Regions from separate parts of the Homo sapiens genome. Here region 2 is linked to region 1. A link means that fine-mapping ties the variant in region 1 to the expression of a gene that starts in the linked region. Tissue or cell type: lymphoblastoid cells. Region 1 holds a variant in brackets; the other region holds the start of a gene. All regions are shown on one strand. Distances are from middle to middle.

What was found. PIP is the estimated chance that this variant, and not a neighbour inherited with it, causes the effect.
Region 2: PAH starts here. The variant in region 1 is the best candidate, but not a certain one, in a credible set for the expression of PAH in lymphoblastoid cells (GEUVADIS, PIP 0.53).

What each region holds. Positions count from the first base shown.
Region 1 is chr12:102,888,250-102,896,425 of GRCh38, forward strand. It overlaps PAH (phenylalanine hydroxylase), which reads right to left. Exons shown (of 13, transcript NM_000277.3): 3 at 6,486-6,669. The region is part of intron 2 of LOC124902999 (a long non-coding RNA gene); the gene reads left to right. Among named protein-coding and RNA genes, the nearest start is that of PAH, 25 kb to the right of the region's middle. The variant T/C (reference allele first, on the strand shown) is at 4,173.
Region 2 is chr12:102,913,898-102,921,897 of GRCh38, forward strand. It overlaps PAH (phenylalanine hydroxylase), which reads right to left and starts at 3,347. Exons shown (of 13, transcript NM_000277.3): 1 at 3,174-3,347. The coding sequence starts at 3,233.

The DNA of each region.
Region 1 (8,176 bases):
AAGAGGGAAAGCAACTTGGCCGAACAGCTACAGCCCAGGAATTGAACTGGAAAATCCATGCAACCTTTTAATTATACCTTTCTGACTTGTTTTCTAATATTGAAAACAAGAATAATACTATGTTTGCTTTAGCTGCCTGAGTTGGTTGTTGCAAAGCTTAAATGAGATAACCTAATGCGAAAGAATTTGGAAAACACTGGGTGTGGCATATCACTGAGGGATTCCTCTTAGAATGAGAGCCTCCTTATAATTTTGTAATCTTCCTGAGCTTGAAGCTCTGTGACCTGGCAAACTAGATGGGCTGCAGAAATAGCATTTGCTCAGGATCTTCCTTTGCCAATGAATAGAGTTGCCTGTGACTGACTGCAGGGAGCAGACAGTCTACCAAGGATATGAAGGGACTCTGCTTCCCACTCCTGGGTTGGTGTCACCTCCCCCTGAATGGGCTGATCCTCTCAGCTGGAGTCTGCTTGTCTCAGTGAGGCAGTTTGCTGAAACGAGTGACCTCCCCAGCTGCCAGGACTTAGTGCTACATCAGTGCATCCAGCAAGCATCCAGGTAAAGACTGAAAAAGACAGCCAATCCTGTGTGTTTTTGCAAACATGCAGATACTTGGTCTCCTGCAGACACAGAGCCACATACATCTACAGCTGTGAAAGGCACACATGGAATGCACAAAGTGAAATGCACGGGAGAAGGTTTAGAACTGAGAAGAGGGCAATGGGAAGGTGGAGACAGAAAAGCCAAGCAGAGGAAAGGAGAGAGGAAAGAAAAGTGCAGGTGGTGGGAGTGGGGAAAAACTCTAACCAGATGGATTCCCTTCCAGCCCTAAGCGGCTTCTCTCTAAAAATTCTTAACTCTTTGGGAACCATAGCCCCTTTGAAAAATCTTGTCTCCTAAAAATTATGCATGCACACCCATGTATTATCTTGCCCACAATCCCAGGGGCTTTTCAGAGCCCTCTAAGGAATCCTATCCTCCCTTCAACCCCAATTGATCTGAAATGTCAGCTTTACTCAGCACAGTTCTTCAGGTCAGCAATGTTGAAGCAGAAGAAACTCAAGAAGGCAAGGAGGGGCAACAAGAGGGAAGGAATGACTATAATGATGTTGCTTTTGTCTTCTCACAGTAATCATAAGTGTTCCCAGACAACATAGATAGATAGATAGATAGATAGATAGATAGATAGATAGATAGATAGATGATAGATGATTGATGGACAGATAGATAGGTAGATAGATGATAGATAGACAGGTGTAGATGATAGATGATGGATAGATAGACGGATAGATAGATAGACAGATAGATAGATAGATAGATAGACAGGCAGATAGGTCTTTCTGCTTTCCACAGAACCAGTAGTTGTTCTGGCAATTTGAACTCACTTTTCTTCCCCACCAGGACCCTTATAATCACCATAGATTAAACAAAACCCAACAGATATTTATCTGCTCTTGGAAAATAACTGCAAACATATTTCTCAAATGGTGATGTTCCTAACTTCTGTCTACCCAAGACATTGTGTCTGTCTGCTTCTCCTGGCTGCAATCTCTCTCCACGTAGGAATTTTCTAGCCCCCACTAAATGTAATGTCATGCAGTCGACTCAAAGGGAAAGGTAAAAGGATTAGTAGATTGATCGATGAAAGATATTAATGCTCTTTCATGTTGGGTTGAAGAAGGATTTGAAGTCATCAGGAAAGAGGGTAGCAGGAGAATAGACCTCAAGTATTCAAAAGACTCTCTGGATTAAAATCCTATTAAATTCACATCAGCTTCTCCAGGAGGCATTTGAGAAGGTTGGGGTTTCTTTACCATGTCGCTGTAATTAACCTTCTCTTAAGCTGTTTTGGGTGGGGAACTTTCGCAATTAAGAAACTGAAAAACTTTTATTTTCTATCACCCACATGGCTTTTTGAATGGTTTAAAAACTAGAGTGGAAAGTAGTTTAGCTTAATTGATTTGAGGGGTTCAGATCTCCTACTTGAACCTGCTGTCAGACTCGCCTCTGAGATCTGAGCCCCACAATAAAAAGGGCATTTTGTCCGGAGAAAGAATCAAAGGTTCAGATCTACTACAATGCTTTTCTTCCTCTGACTGTTCTCCCACTGAGTCCTATAGAAAGGGCAACTTTGCAAAGGAATGGTTGTTCCCCTTAAGAAAAACCTGTTTCTTGGCCCAGACCCCACTTCACGGAAACTACCACAGAAACCCAAAGAGTCTTTCTTGGCAGATGCCAGGTCGTGGCATGTCAACATCAGCTCTCTCATTACAGGTATGGTAAGGTCAGGTGGGGGCAGCCACTATGGGATTGGGTGACCAATCATCTGAAGAAATAAGGGTCACAAAACACATGTTATTTTAAAGGGTTGGTCTTAGCTAGTTTTTCTTCCCTAGGGAAAATGTCATCCCACTTCAAATATCAACAACTTTGACATTTTGAGCAAGAAAGCGAGAAGCCCCATTAGGGAATTGAATCTGTGCTTCCTCCAGGCTCCAATAAACCCAACTTTTATTACATGATGCCTCTATGTGAAAACATTAACTTTTTAGGCCGGGCACTGTGGCTCACACTTGTAATCTCAGCACTTTGGGAGGCCGAGGTGGGCGGATCACCTGAGGTCAGGAGTGTGAGACCAGCCTGAACAACATGGCGAAACCCCGTCTCTACTAAAAATATAAAAATTAGCCGGGCGTGGTGTCATGTGCCTGTAATCTCAGCTACTCGGGGAGGCTGAGGCAGGAGAATGGCTTGAACCCGAGAGGCGGAGGTTGCAGTGAGCAGAGATTGTGCCACTGTACTCCAGCCTGGGCGACAGAGTGAGGCTCCATCTCAAAAAAAGGAAAACATTAGCTTTTTTACTTTCTTACTTCCTGGATCCTCAGAGCTAAACATGAGTGGAGAACAGGCGGAATCACACCAACCCTGTCTTTGTCACAGCACCTGTCCCTCTATTCTACTTACCTGGGTGTGTCTTCCCCTTTGCCAGGCTGTGAGCTCCTTAAGAACAGGCAGATTGACCCTTTCTTTCCTAGCACTGTGCCCGGCACAGAGCTGCTCTCAACACACCCTTGCGCATGACCCCCCAGAACCCACTGTTTGCCTTAAGGCAAGTCACAGCCTCTGTTTTCACAATGAAAAATGAAGGGGTCTGTAGGGCTGCATGACCTCTCAGGTCATTTTCCAGTTGCCAGACTCTGAAAAAGTAGCTGTGTACAGGCTGCATTTTGGTCGCTCTTGTGCTCATGCCAGTGTTTATAATAATAATGATGATAATGGTAAGAATAGAGAATAACTTTAAGTCCTTAATTAAACATGCTCTGCTCTGTTCCCAGTGCTTCACTTGTGTGATTTCACCAATCCTATAAGGCAGAGGCTCTTGTGACTCCCCTTTGATACAGTGGGAGACTGCAAGGGTCAATGATTTGCTCAAAGTCACACCGAGTGTGGTCGCCGTGCTTCCTGAATCTGCACTCTTAACTCCCCCTCAATGTCCCCACTAAGAACCTCCTTTCTGAGCCTCCAGTTCAGGCTGCCGGCTCTCCAGCTGGTTTACTATATATTCCCTGGCTCCTCCAGGGGCTGGCTGTCTGCCTGTCAATTGCTTTGATTTCCTTCCTCATGGCCCCAGCTGGCCCAGCCTCCACCTGCTCCAACCAGAGGCTGAATTGCCCCAGGATCTGGCAGGCCCTTTGTCCAAAGGGTCTGCAGCTCCTGTTGAGAGCAGGTGGCCGGAAAAAAGCAAGGGAGGGCAGTCATTGGGGAAGCAGCTTGGGAGGCTGAAAAGGAAAGAAGGCAGGATAGGACTAATCCAGGGAGGAATTCCAAGTGCCTGCCCTCCAGGGACCTGAGCCCATCTGCATGGCTGTCCACTCTCCACAAGGCCAGAACACTGGAGTGGGCTTTCCTTGCCTTGGTTATACCTACAGGAGAATGAAGGCAGAGATGAGTCTCCTAGAAAGGCCATGGAGCTACCTTTTAAAAAATGTTTCAGTGGCCTGTTTTACGGGGTGGATCTTGTCTCATTTTAAAGCATCTCTGCCTATTCAAATGCTTCTTTCAGCTATGGTGCCTGAACTCCTCTTGACCCAAAGTCTTTCCAAGTGTTTTTGAAAGAAACTCGATTTTACAGTAGAAAAAAAATAATTTTTTAAAGAAGTTAACCTCAGCAA[T/C]CACATTCTTAGGTATTTACTTGAATCAGTTGAAAACTTATCTTCACACAAAAAAACTGCACATAAATGTTTATTCACAGCTTTATTCATAATCATCAAAAATTGGAAGCAACCAAGATGTCCTTCAATAGGTGAATGAATAAACAAACTGTGGTACATCTTGACCATGGAATATTATTCAGGAACAAAAAGAAATGAGCTATCAAGTCACAGAAAGACATGGAGGATTTGTAAATATGTATTGCTAAATGGAGGAAGCCAGTCTGAAAAGGCTACATACTGTATGATTTCAACTATGTGACATTCTTGAAAAAGCAAAACTATGGAGCTAGCAAAAAGAGCAGTGGTTGCTGGAAGGAGTCTGTAAAGAAGAAGGAATGAATAGCTGGAGCACAGGGCATTTTTTAGGGCAATGAAACTATTCTGTATGACATTGAAATGGTAGATACATGACATTACGCATTTGTCAAAACCAATAAAACTGTAAAATACAAAGCATGATCCCGAATATAAACTATGGACTTCAATTAGTGATAATATATCAATATCGGCTCATCAGTTCTAAAAAAAAATACCACACAAATGCAAGATGTTAATAGAAGAAACTGAGGTAGGGATGAAAGACCTGGGAACTCTCTGTACTTTCTGTGCAGTTTTTCTGTAAACCTAATACTGCTCTTTTAAAAAGTCTATTAAGGCCAGGCACAGTGGCTCATGCCTGTAATCCCAACACTTTGGGAGGCTGAGGCGGGTGGTTCACCTGAGGTCGAGAGTTTGAGACCAGCTTGACAAACATGGTGAAATCCCGTCTCTATGGAAAATACAAAAATTAGCCAGGCGTGGTGGGGCATGCCTGTAATCCCAGCTACTCAAGAGGTTGAGGCAGGAGAATTGCCTGAACCCAGGAGGCAGAGGTTGCAGTGAGCTGAGATCGCACCATTGCACTCCAGCCTGGGCAACAAGAACGAAATTCTGTCTAAAAAAATAAAAATAAAAATAAAAAATAAAATAAAAAGTCTATTAAAAAATGGTTCATTTGAATATGCTTGAGGCCCTAAAAAGCAGTCACCTTCTTCCTCTGTATTGCTTTCAGGCTAATCATAATCATAATAACAACCACATGCTATCATTTGTCCAGCCCTACAGTGCACCAGGCACTGTTCTAAGCACTGTTTATGTATGACTTCATTTAATCCTCACAAAAGCCCTATGAAAAATTGAGGTCAGGGCAGTTAAAGCAATTTGTCAGGGTATCAAACTCAATATGTGGAAGAAGTAGGACTTGAACCACAGTCTATTCAACTTCAAGCCCACACTTATAATTTCTATACTCTACCACCCTTTTCCTCCCCGGAGGATGAGTAGCATTTCAGTACGTAAATAATGGGACAATGCAAGTTTTGACAACTCCTATATTAGTCATTCACTCAGAAATATGTGCAGAGCACCTGTGTACCAAGCAGTGTGCTAAACTCTGAGGATATAAATATAGGTAAGAGAGTCTACCTGCCCACAAGGAGATTGTATGAGAAGAAGAGACAGATAAGAAGATGGAAAATGACAATGAAAGCCCTAGTAACAAGGAGCCAGGTGTCTCCAGCTCTGGAATTGGCATGTTACAAAAAGGACTTGAAGAGATCCCTTTGGTTGGAGTGGAGAGATTCAAAAATCCATTCAATCATCTTGAGTTGATTTTTGTATATGGTAAAAGGCAGTGGTCCAGTTTCAATTTTCTGCATATGGCTTTCGAGTTATCCCAGCAGTATTTATTGACTAGGAATTCCTTTCTTCATTGCTTGCTTTCATGGGTTTTGTTGAAAATTAGATACTACTTATTGGGTATTATGCTGATTACCTGGGTGACAAAATTATCTGTATACCAAATTCCCATGACACACAATTTACCCGTGTAACAAACCTGTACATATAACCCTGAATTTAAAATAAAAGTCAAAAGAAAAAAGAGAGAGAAAAATAAAAATAAATAAAAATTAAAAGCTTATAAAGTAAAAAAAAAAAAGAAAAAAGAAATAGCTATCTTTAGGAAGGGGAAAAATAACTAAAATTCACTATATGTCTAAAATATACCAGGCACTTGCCTAGGTCCCCAACCTATGTCCACTCATTTAATCCCCCAAACAGTCTTCCAAGGCATTATTTCCAATACATATATATTAATTTTGCTTCCGCAAAATAACAGCAATATATATTAAATATACATATATTTAAATATGCTGTTAAATATGTATATTGCTGTTATTTTATGAAGACAGTGTGGAGTTACTTATGTTGCAAAATTCCTCTAATTCTTACCTGTGTCTTTCTTCTTATCTCGTGAAAGCTCATGGACAGTGGCACCAATGTCATGCCTCAAGATCTTGATGATGTTTGTCAGAGCAGGCAGGCTACGTTTATCCAAATGGGTGAAAAATTCATACTCATCTTTCTTTAAACGAGAAGGTCTAGATTCAATGTGGGTCAGGTTTACATCATTCTCCTAGAAGAGAGAATGGGGAGGGTGAGGAGACAGTCACTGGAACTAACGCAGGCCAAAGATGCAGAACCAGAACAGGAAAACCTAACGCAACAAAATGGAGAGTTCAAGAATACAATTATTTTTATAAGAGTATAAAAAAGTCCTTAAATTTGCAAAAGTTGTTTACTTTTTCTTCTTTAAAACCAAGTACTAAGTGGCAGGAGGTGGGGCAGTTAGTTCACATGTCACAATTTAATCACATGAAAATCTGCTAAAGGCCTAGAATTGCCACTATAAGATTTTGATTTGGTTAAAATATTTAGGACAGTGGCTGCCAAAAATATTTACATAGGAAACACCCCCACTTTCCAAACGAAATTCTATGGAATTACAATAAATAAATAATATAGAAGCAACATTGTTCTGCTTGAATAGGGGGTCAGACTTATTTGATTTATATCTAATATCTAAATTTATTGCTTGTGAGACGATGTACTTTCATGTTTCCATTCCTCAGTTTTTCCATCTGTAACTTGCTGGTCTTAATTATACCTGCTTCATAAGTTCATTGGGAGTGTTGGATGATATGATACATGTGCACCACTTGGCACATAGTAAATGCTCAGTAAAAATTATCTAATATAATTACCACTAATATATTTATATAGGCCTGGCGCTGTGGCTCACGCCTGTAATCCCAGCACTTTGAGGGGCCGAGGTGGGCAGATTGCCTGAGGTCAGGAGTTGGAGACAAGTCTGGCCAACATGGTGAAACCCTGTCTCTACTGAAAACACAAAAGAATTAGCTGGGCATGGTGGTGTGTGCCTGTAATCCCAATCCCAGCTACTTGGGAGGCTGAGACAGGGGAATTGCTTGAACCACGGAGGTGGAAGTTGCAGTGAGCCAAGATCGCGCCACTGCACTCCAGCCTGGGCGACAGAGCGAGACTCTGTCTCAAAAAAAAAAAAAAAATATATATATATATATATATATGTATATAAAATTACTTTCCATTCAAGGTATTCAATAAATATATACATTTGTAACACCCAACAGTGGCCAATCATCCTTCTAGCGGCTTGGGATCCACCAGTGAACAAAATAAAGATGCTTTCCTTTATAAAGCTTACATTCAAGTTGAGGGGATACAAACAACAAACAGAAACTCATTTGTGCATGTTATCATGAGAAAGACTAAGGCAAAAATGCAACACAGAGCAGGGGGAAGCAAATGGGCATTCCTGAGACAGGGTGAGGGCAGATTGCAGGACTAAATAGGGCAGGCACATGGGGCCTCATTGGGATGGCAAGATTTATGTACAGTCCTAAAGGAGTTGAGAGAGGTGAAGGCCGGAAGGTGGCAGCATGCCTGGCCTGTTGAAGAGACAGCCACAAGGTGGGTTGATGAGAGTGGATGAGGTCAAGGGGAAAATAACAGGAGACAGTGTCAGAATAATCACAGGGTCATTGCAGGCCATTTTAAGAATTATGGTTTTGATTCTGAAAGAAATAGGGATCTTTGCAAGA
Region 2 (8,000 bases), 26 kb after region 1:
CTATGTGTGTCCACAATAAGCAGCAGGTACCTAAAACTGGGAAGAAAAAAATTTGCAGAACAATTACTCTCTTGTAAGCAAGTTAATGAAATTAATGGAATAGATGTTACATCATCTCAATGAGAGAAGGCTGTGTTAGGAAACTCTTAGTGACTCAGAATAACAAGCCCTGCATGAATACTGATGACCCTTAGCAAAAAATTCTTTCAATTCAGAAAATTCAGATTTTTGCCAAAACATCCCATGAAACTGAGGTGTGAAGGAAAAAACAAATTTATCAGCAAGAGTGATTTTAGGGAGCTTCAAATGAAATGGAAGACTAAACTGTTAAATATCCCATTTTGATCATGATGTTATCTTTCTAAAAAACTTCATTTATTTAGAGCCTATATAAACATTTATTTAGAGCCTATAATTTCTGGGTATTATAATAAGCACTTGATTTGGATTATCTCATGTAATTTGGCAACAACCTAAGAGGTAGGTTTTATTAGGCACCAAGTGCCCCCTTTTATTGATGACAAGATTAAGGCTTAGAGAGGTTAAGGAACTTGCCTATAGTTACACAGTTAGCAGTGGAGCCAGGATCTGAACCCAGGTCATTTGATCTCTGCATACTGTCCATGAATCACAATCTCTTGCAGCCTCTATTCCTCTTCCCCCTTTTAAACCCTGCCAGAGAGGTACAGATGAGTCTCTGACTTAAGTCTTCTTCCTACTAAAGAATACTGAGCCTTCTTCTTTCCAGTTTCCTTGAAATGACAAAAGATATTCCTGTCTCTAGTTCACTTGGTAGCACTCTTTTCTCCTGTTGGCTTCCAAGAAAAGTAAGATATTTCTGATACACATCCACAGATGCCACTTTTGACTAGGGCAATTCAGACTTGAATGTACCTGGGCTTGAAGTTGAGTCACCCCCTAAACCCCACCCCACTACAGTGTGTGTTCAGCCAATCACAAGTCTGATCTCATCTTCTCCAGAAATGCCTCTGGGCATCAGGTCCTTTCTTCCCACTGCCATCACCTGAATCCATTTCTTAGTGGCCTGCATCGATCCAGCCTGACATTTTTACTCTTGTCCTTCTATTTAGAATCCCTCAAACGCTCCATCCCCATGGCTTCTTGCTGATGTTTGGCAGTTTCTGTGGTACCGAATCTCTGGAGGCCCACCTACAGGAACCTCCTTTCCAGCCAAGCTGCTTTCTTTCTTGCCTTTTTAGCTCCTCATTAGAGTATTCACCAAATTTCCCTTTCCAAGATCTCACCTTCCTTAAAGGCTCTTTTGGGTCTCAATTCTCTTAGGAAATGTTTGTTCCCCTCAGCCCAGGTGCACAATCACTTCTTTATCTATGCTTTCCACTTGGCATTTGATGCCCACATGGTATTTCATAATAATTGACTCACAGAAATTGATTTGTCCTTAGTGCTCATCTAGTTAAACTCCCTTACATTACAGATGGGGAAAACTTAGAGCCAAAGGGAGAAAATAACTCACCTGAGGCCACATAGGTAGTGGAGGCTGGTCAAGAACTCAGGCTCCTAATTATCAATTTTTCTACATAATTCCCTTTGCTATGGACATAATATGGGAATTTAGTCCTGTTTCTTGCAAAGTAAAAGATTTACTCTGGTCCAGTCACCAGACAGTTAGTCAATAGCACTCCTAACAGCCTATATTTCACCATGCTGATCCCCCTTCACTTGCTCCATTTCTCTCCATGCACTTTGTAAATCAGTGTTTCTCAATGAGTGTTCCTTGGATCTTGACTCCAAAATTACAGGTGATTCCTTCTTATAATGCAGTTCCCTGGGCTTTACCTAAACCTGTTGAATCAAGTTGTCTTAGAATCTGCCATTTCAAAACCATCCCAGGTGATTCTTAACCATAGAAAATTTTGGAACCATTGATATATATACAGCCTATTTTTTTAATTATAACTTTTCCCTAAATGTGTCTGCAAATTCACATTTACTATATAACACGACACTACTTTGTTTGTTATTAATATAATTTGTGGATTCTCAATCTTCTAAGTGCTCTATAAAGAACTTTAAACCCCTATGCTTTCCTGATGAGATCCCTGCCCCTAACCCCTTCCCACAGTTGTGGGGACCGTATTGCCAGCAGCACCAAAACTATGTGCAGGATGGAGCCAGGACCTGTTCTGGGATCACTCTGACTCTCACGCTGTTCCTCTGTACAATAAGTTCTGTCTCCTAAGAGCCATGTACTATTTTCATAAGAAATTTTTTTTTTTAAGGATTCAAATAAAAATCAGTCCTAAGTTCTGCAGTCTTTCTAGTTATATTAACGTTAACATTAACCATTCTTTTCTCTCCAGCCTCCCTGTTTTCTACTGAGAACTCTTCTCCCTAATCCTACTGATGACAGGGGCCTGCAGACTTACATTATTTCCCTGGCCTGGGCTTTATGACTGAATCTCAAGAGTCCAGGAGCAGACTTCCTCCCATGGGTAAATATGTAGGTCACATTAAAGAATGTATTCTGCAATTCTTCACCTCAAGAAAATGCCAACAAATCCCGGAGAATGGAATATACCTTGGGCATTATTTCCAAGTCACGTTTAGGGTTCTTTCACATTCCATGCCCAGGGCTAACTCTTGGTCATTTTCCTCTCTGCTTAGTTTCTGCCTCCCCTGGTCTGAGTAAGTTTCTGTCTGAATTCTCTTCATGCCTCATCTTCTTCCCAAAATGAAAGGAGGATAGTTACTCACAATTTTGCCATTTTGATACCTTGCTGAGAGCACTTTATAAATATTACAAAAGAAATCTAGAAGGATTCCACATCCCATCCCAGATCATTAGGGACCAGCCCCTTCAGTGTACAGAAGAGTAAACAGACAACAGAGAGGGACAGTAACTTGTCCAAAGACACACAGCTAATTGGTGGCAGTTCTGGAGGCCAGATCCCCAACCCCCTAAAGCAATGGTCATTCATTCCTGTGAAAGCCACCGAGGACAGATGTTCTCCTACTTAGAAACAATTGTTGAGGACATTTGTCTGTTGACTTCCTGGATATTCTCATCAGCTTCCAACGAATTCAGACTTCTTACTGAGCTTATGAAACCAGGAAGCACCAGCAGTCTTCGGATCTCTTTCTCTGGAGGCCCAAATTCCCCTAACTGAGCAGCTCAGGCTGCCGTGGCTCACCTGTCCAAAGTCAGAGAGTTTCCTGCCCAAGCCTGGGTTTTCCAGGACCGCAGTGGACATGCTGGCTCCCCGGGAGTGAGGTCTCTGGCTTTTTAGGGCCTCAGGTACAGGCAGGTTTGCAAACAGCACGTGGGGCTGAAGGTTTTAACCTCGCACTAGGGAGGAGAAGAGAGTTACAAAGGGTGTCTCTTGCGTGGTGCATCTCCGCACAGTAACGCCCCTCGTGGGCGTTGTCCTGACGCAGGAGGCCAGGGCAGCCTGCCGGATGCTCCAGGTCACCTGCCCAGGACGGGCCGGAGGGGAGGGGCTGAGGGAGGGTGTGGGGGACGCAGGAGGCACCACTTCGCTGCCCGCCCTGGGTAAAGGGAAGAAGCCAGGGAGCGACGGGCCACCCAAGCCCCGTCGATTAGACAGGTTTAGGCACTTCCGGGACTCTCAGAAGCCTGGGAAGCGAGTTCTCTGCAATTGGACTAAGCCTGCGACCGTCTGGTATAACAATTATATGAATAATCCGCCCCCCTTACCCCCAGCTGAAACAGTCAGGATTCTCATTTAGATTTTTGTTGTTGTTGTTTTCCCTTCTGTTAACCTCTAAGCACACTGCCTTGCTGTGCGCTGACTTCAGAAAACTACAGCTAGAGGGCACGTGAACGCTGAGCACAGCAGGTAAAGAGCAAATGTAAGAGCGATCTGGGTTTAAATCCAGCCTGGTGTTCTCCAGCTATTCGCACAACTGCTCCTGAAGCTCGGAAAAGAGGGTGGTAGAGCCACCTTGCTGGAAGGTTTTAAGAATAGGAATAAAGAAATGCATTAAAATTTAGTACAGTTCTTCCACATAAACACTCAGTAAATGGAAGATATTGTTTAAAAGCAAATCCACATAAATTTGACAATAATTACTGAGACCTGTACCGTGTGCTTGGTGGTGTTCTAGTCTTTGGGAATACAGCAATGAACAAAACAGACTCTGCCTCCCCAGCTATGCTGCCATTCTGGTGGGCAGAAAATAAACATATAAATAAGTTTAGGTAGGGCTAAGTCTTTTGAAGAAAGTAAAGTAGGGGGATGGTCTATGAGTGAGCTGGTGGGATTTGGCCAGTGGTCTTCAAATAGTCAGGAAGATGCCATTAACCACACTTTTAGAGAAGACTGAGGGTGAGGCATTACTGACCAGGAGGTAAAACAAAGTATAAAAGAATGCTGGAAAGCAGGTTCAGAGGTTCAGAAAGGATGTGAAAACTCAGGGGCCTCAAGCCTTGAGTGCCTGCTTAATATTTTCCCAAGAGAAAGTAATGGGCTGTAAGAAAATAAGCCAATAATAAAGGTTGCTGGAAGCCCATCCCTCTCCTCCCACTGTTCTTTGACCAAGCATCTGAAAATAAATAAACAAATAAATAAATAAATAAGTAAAATAAAACTCAGGTTTAGGATTCAAAACAAGTGGTTTAACTCTTGGTTCTACCACTGATTTGGTCAAGCCCATGCCTCAGTTTTTTTTTGTTTTTTTTTTTTGTTTTGTTTTTGTCTTTAAAATGAGAATTTTAAGGGATATTTAGGATTCCTTAAGCCTTTATGATGTGCCAGGCTGTCTACTGTCTGCTAAGAATACAGATATAACAAGTGCAATTTCTGTCCAAAAGGAACCTTTAGGGGCCTGATGAATATTTCCCATAGTAAGTTGGAAGCTCAATGTTGTTAAATATTGAAGGCGAAGATCTTGATTTCCATCCTCAGGAGAATCTGTATTCTTTATCTGACTCCGGCATTTTTCAGTGTAGTAGACATAAAACATGTTGTATTCCTCAGCCTCAGGATTTTCTTACAAACATAATTTCATCCCTTGATGCTACTTGAGGGCAATGAATGTGACAACTCCAAAAATATTACAGGCATGCAATAAAGAAAAGCAAAGAATATTATCTACTTATTTGCATGCACACTCTGTCTTAGACACTGTGCCACGCTCTCCACGTGCATGGTTTCACTTCTTCCTCTTAACAATCCCATGAACTATGCACTCCCTTTTAATAGGCAAGAAACTGAGGCCTAGGAAGTTTAAACAAATGGCCCAAATTCAATCTATGTTTCACCCAACACCAAGGCACTGCACTGGCTCTCAAATACTTTTGCTTTCCTGTTTGAAATGAGGACAACATAATTTTTAGGACAACAAAATGATAGCTTTTCTTTCTTCTCCCCATAACAGCTGAAAATGCAACTCTTTTTTCTAATGTTTAATTTTTGTGGGAACATAGTAGATGTATGCATTCATGGAGTATGTGCAATATTTTGATACAGGCATGCAATGTGTAATAATCACATCATTGAAAATGGGGCATCCATCCCCTCAAGCATTTATCTTTTGTGTTGCAAACAAGCCAATTATACTCTTTCAGGTATTTTTAAATGTATAATTAAATTATTTTGACTATATTCGCCCTGTTGTACTATCAAATACTAGGTCTTATTCATTCTTTCTATATTTTTTTGTACCTATTAACCATCTCCACCTCCCCTCCAGGCCCCTACTACCCTTCCCCACCTCTGGTAATTAGCTCTCTACTCTCTAGCTCCATGAATCAGATTGTTTTGATTTTTAGACCCCACATATGAGTGAGAATATGTGATGTTTGGCTTTCTGTGCCTGGCTTATTTCATTTGACATAATGACCTCCAGTTCTGTCCATGTTATTGCAAATAACAGGATCTCATTCTTTTTTATTGCTGAATAGTACTCCATTGTGTATTAAAGTACCACATTTTTTTAAAACCCATGTTGATGGAGACTTGGGTTGCTTCCAGATCTTGGCTATTGTGAACAGTGCTGCAACAAACATAAAAGAACAGACATCTCTTTGATATACTGATTTCCTTTCTTATAGGTATATACCCAGCAGTGGGATCACTAGATCATATAGTAGCTCTATTTTTAGTTTTTTGGGGAACTGCCAAACTGTTCTCCATAGTGGTTGTACAAAAATGGAATTTTTAATCCTATCTCACATAAAAATGCCCTAAATCTAGGTTGAGAGGAAAGCACATCATTGCTATCTGAGAGAAGAAAAACTAATCGCTTCTTTAAAAAAAATTATTCTGGCAAAAAGGAAAAATTTATTTATGCACTAAGATAAAAATAAGAGATTGCTTGTGCCATAAACTTGCAGATGATTTTTAAGCCACCTTTTTGTTCAATTTGGTTGGAATGCAATGTGCTGCTATAATGAGAGCAGTGCTGGGTGCTAAGGAAATGGAGGAAAAAAAGGCACATCTAGAAGAAGCATCCACAGTCAGTCAGTAGACCACTGAGGTATTTTTTAACACTGCACAGAGGTGGGGAACATGTCACAAGATGAGAAGTTGTGTACTTGGCAAACTTAGAGCTGACCTTTGCTGATTTGGAAGTTGAAGATTACCCAACCATTGCAGGTTTATCAGTTCTTTCTTGTTTATCTTCATGTGCAGAAGGTTGAGTTAATCATAATCCATGAGTTCATGGCACAGAAACAAAACCTACATGACCCTTCTCTTGTTTTTTTATTCATTCTCTTTTATCATAATTCCTCACTCTCACTGCCTTTCCCCAGAGGCAACTTCTCTAATATGATGTTTAGCCTTGAACTTGTAAAATACATAGAAATGTTTGTGCGTATATGTATTTTTCATGGATATGTGATGTGGCACTATAGATTTACTACAATCTATGGATGTACTATAGATTTCATAGTTTCTTTTTTCTTTCAACTGTGTTCTTAGGATCCAGCCATGCTGCTGAATATGTATCTAGTTCTTTGCTTTTCTAAATGGTTCAGAATATCCCAGTGTGTATTTGCCACACTTGACTTCTTTATTTTCCAGTTATGGACATCTAAGTCATTGCTAATTTTTCACCACCCCAAACAATACTGTGATAAATTTCCTTATCTTTCTTCCCTTATAGGCCTGGGGTAGAAATTTTCTGGGATAGAAGAGTGGTGCTATTATGAATCATAGGGAACATGCACTCTTAATTTCACAAAGTGCTGCCAGATTGCCCTTTAGAGTGGCTTGGACCAGTCTACACACCAACCAGCAGGCAAAAGAGTTCCTATTGGTGGGTATACCTAATATGTGGTATTCTCCAAAGGTCAGAATTTTTGCCAATCTGATCAGCATAAGCTGGTGTCTTGTTGTTTTTAATTTGAATTTCTCTCATAACTCATGAGTTTGAGCATCTCTTTATATACTTATACCTCTTAGATTTCCCATGCTATGAATAGTTTATCATCATATTTTCTACCCATTTTCTACTAGGATTCCTGTCTTGTAGATTTGTTGCAATAATTTCTGTTAGCTCTGTGTCCAAATATTAGCTCTGTGCCCTTCTCAGTCACTGAACACATTGCCTCCCAATGTGTCACTGTCAGTTAATTGTCAACTGGTGTCCTTCCTTGATTAAACAATAAAACAAGTAATTTTGAAATAACAAGTCCATCCTTTTAAAAATTTTTGTGGTTTGTACTATAGAGTATTGTTTAAGAAGTCCTTCCCCATCCCAAAGTTCCAAAGAGGTGCTCTTCTCTCTAGCATCTAGATCTATCATAGCTAGATCTTTAATCTACCTGCATTGTAGATATACCTGTACATGCCTTGGGGATTTCTTAGAGGCTTTTCAACATGGTCCCACAGTCCAGGTAATACCACTTAACTTAAAGAGGCCAATCCCACAATCAATTGTCTTTTGGGATTTTCTCACCATAGAGCCTATTTTAACTTTCCGCTAGATATATAGATCAAATTTTCTTTCTCTGATTTGAAAGTTATCCCTTATATTTTAATTTTTTTGCTGTA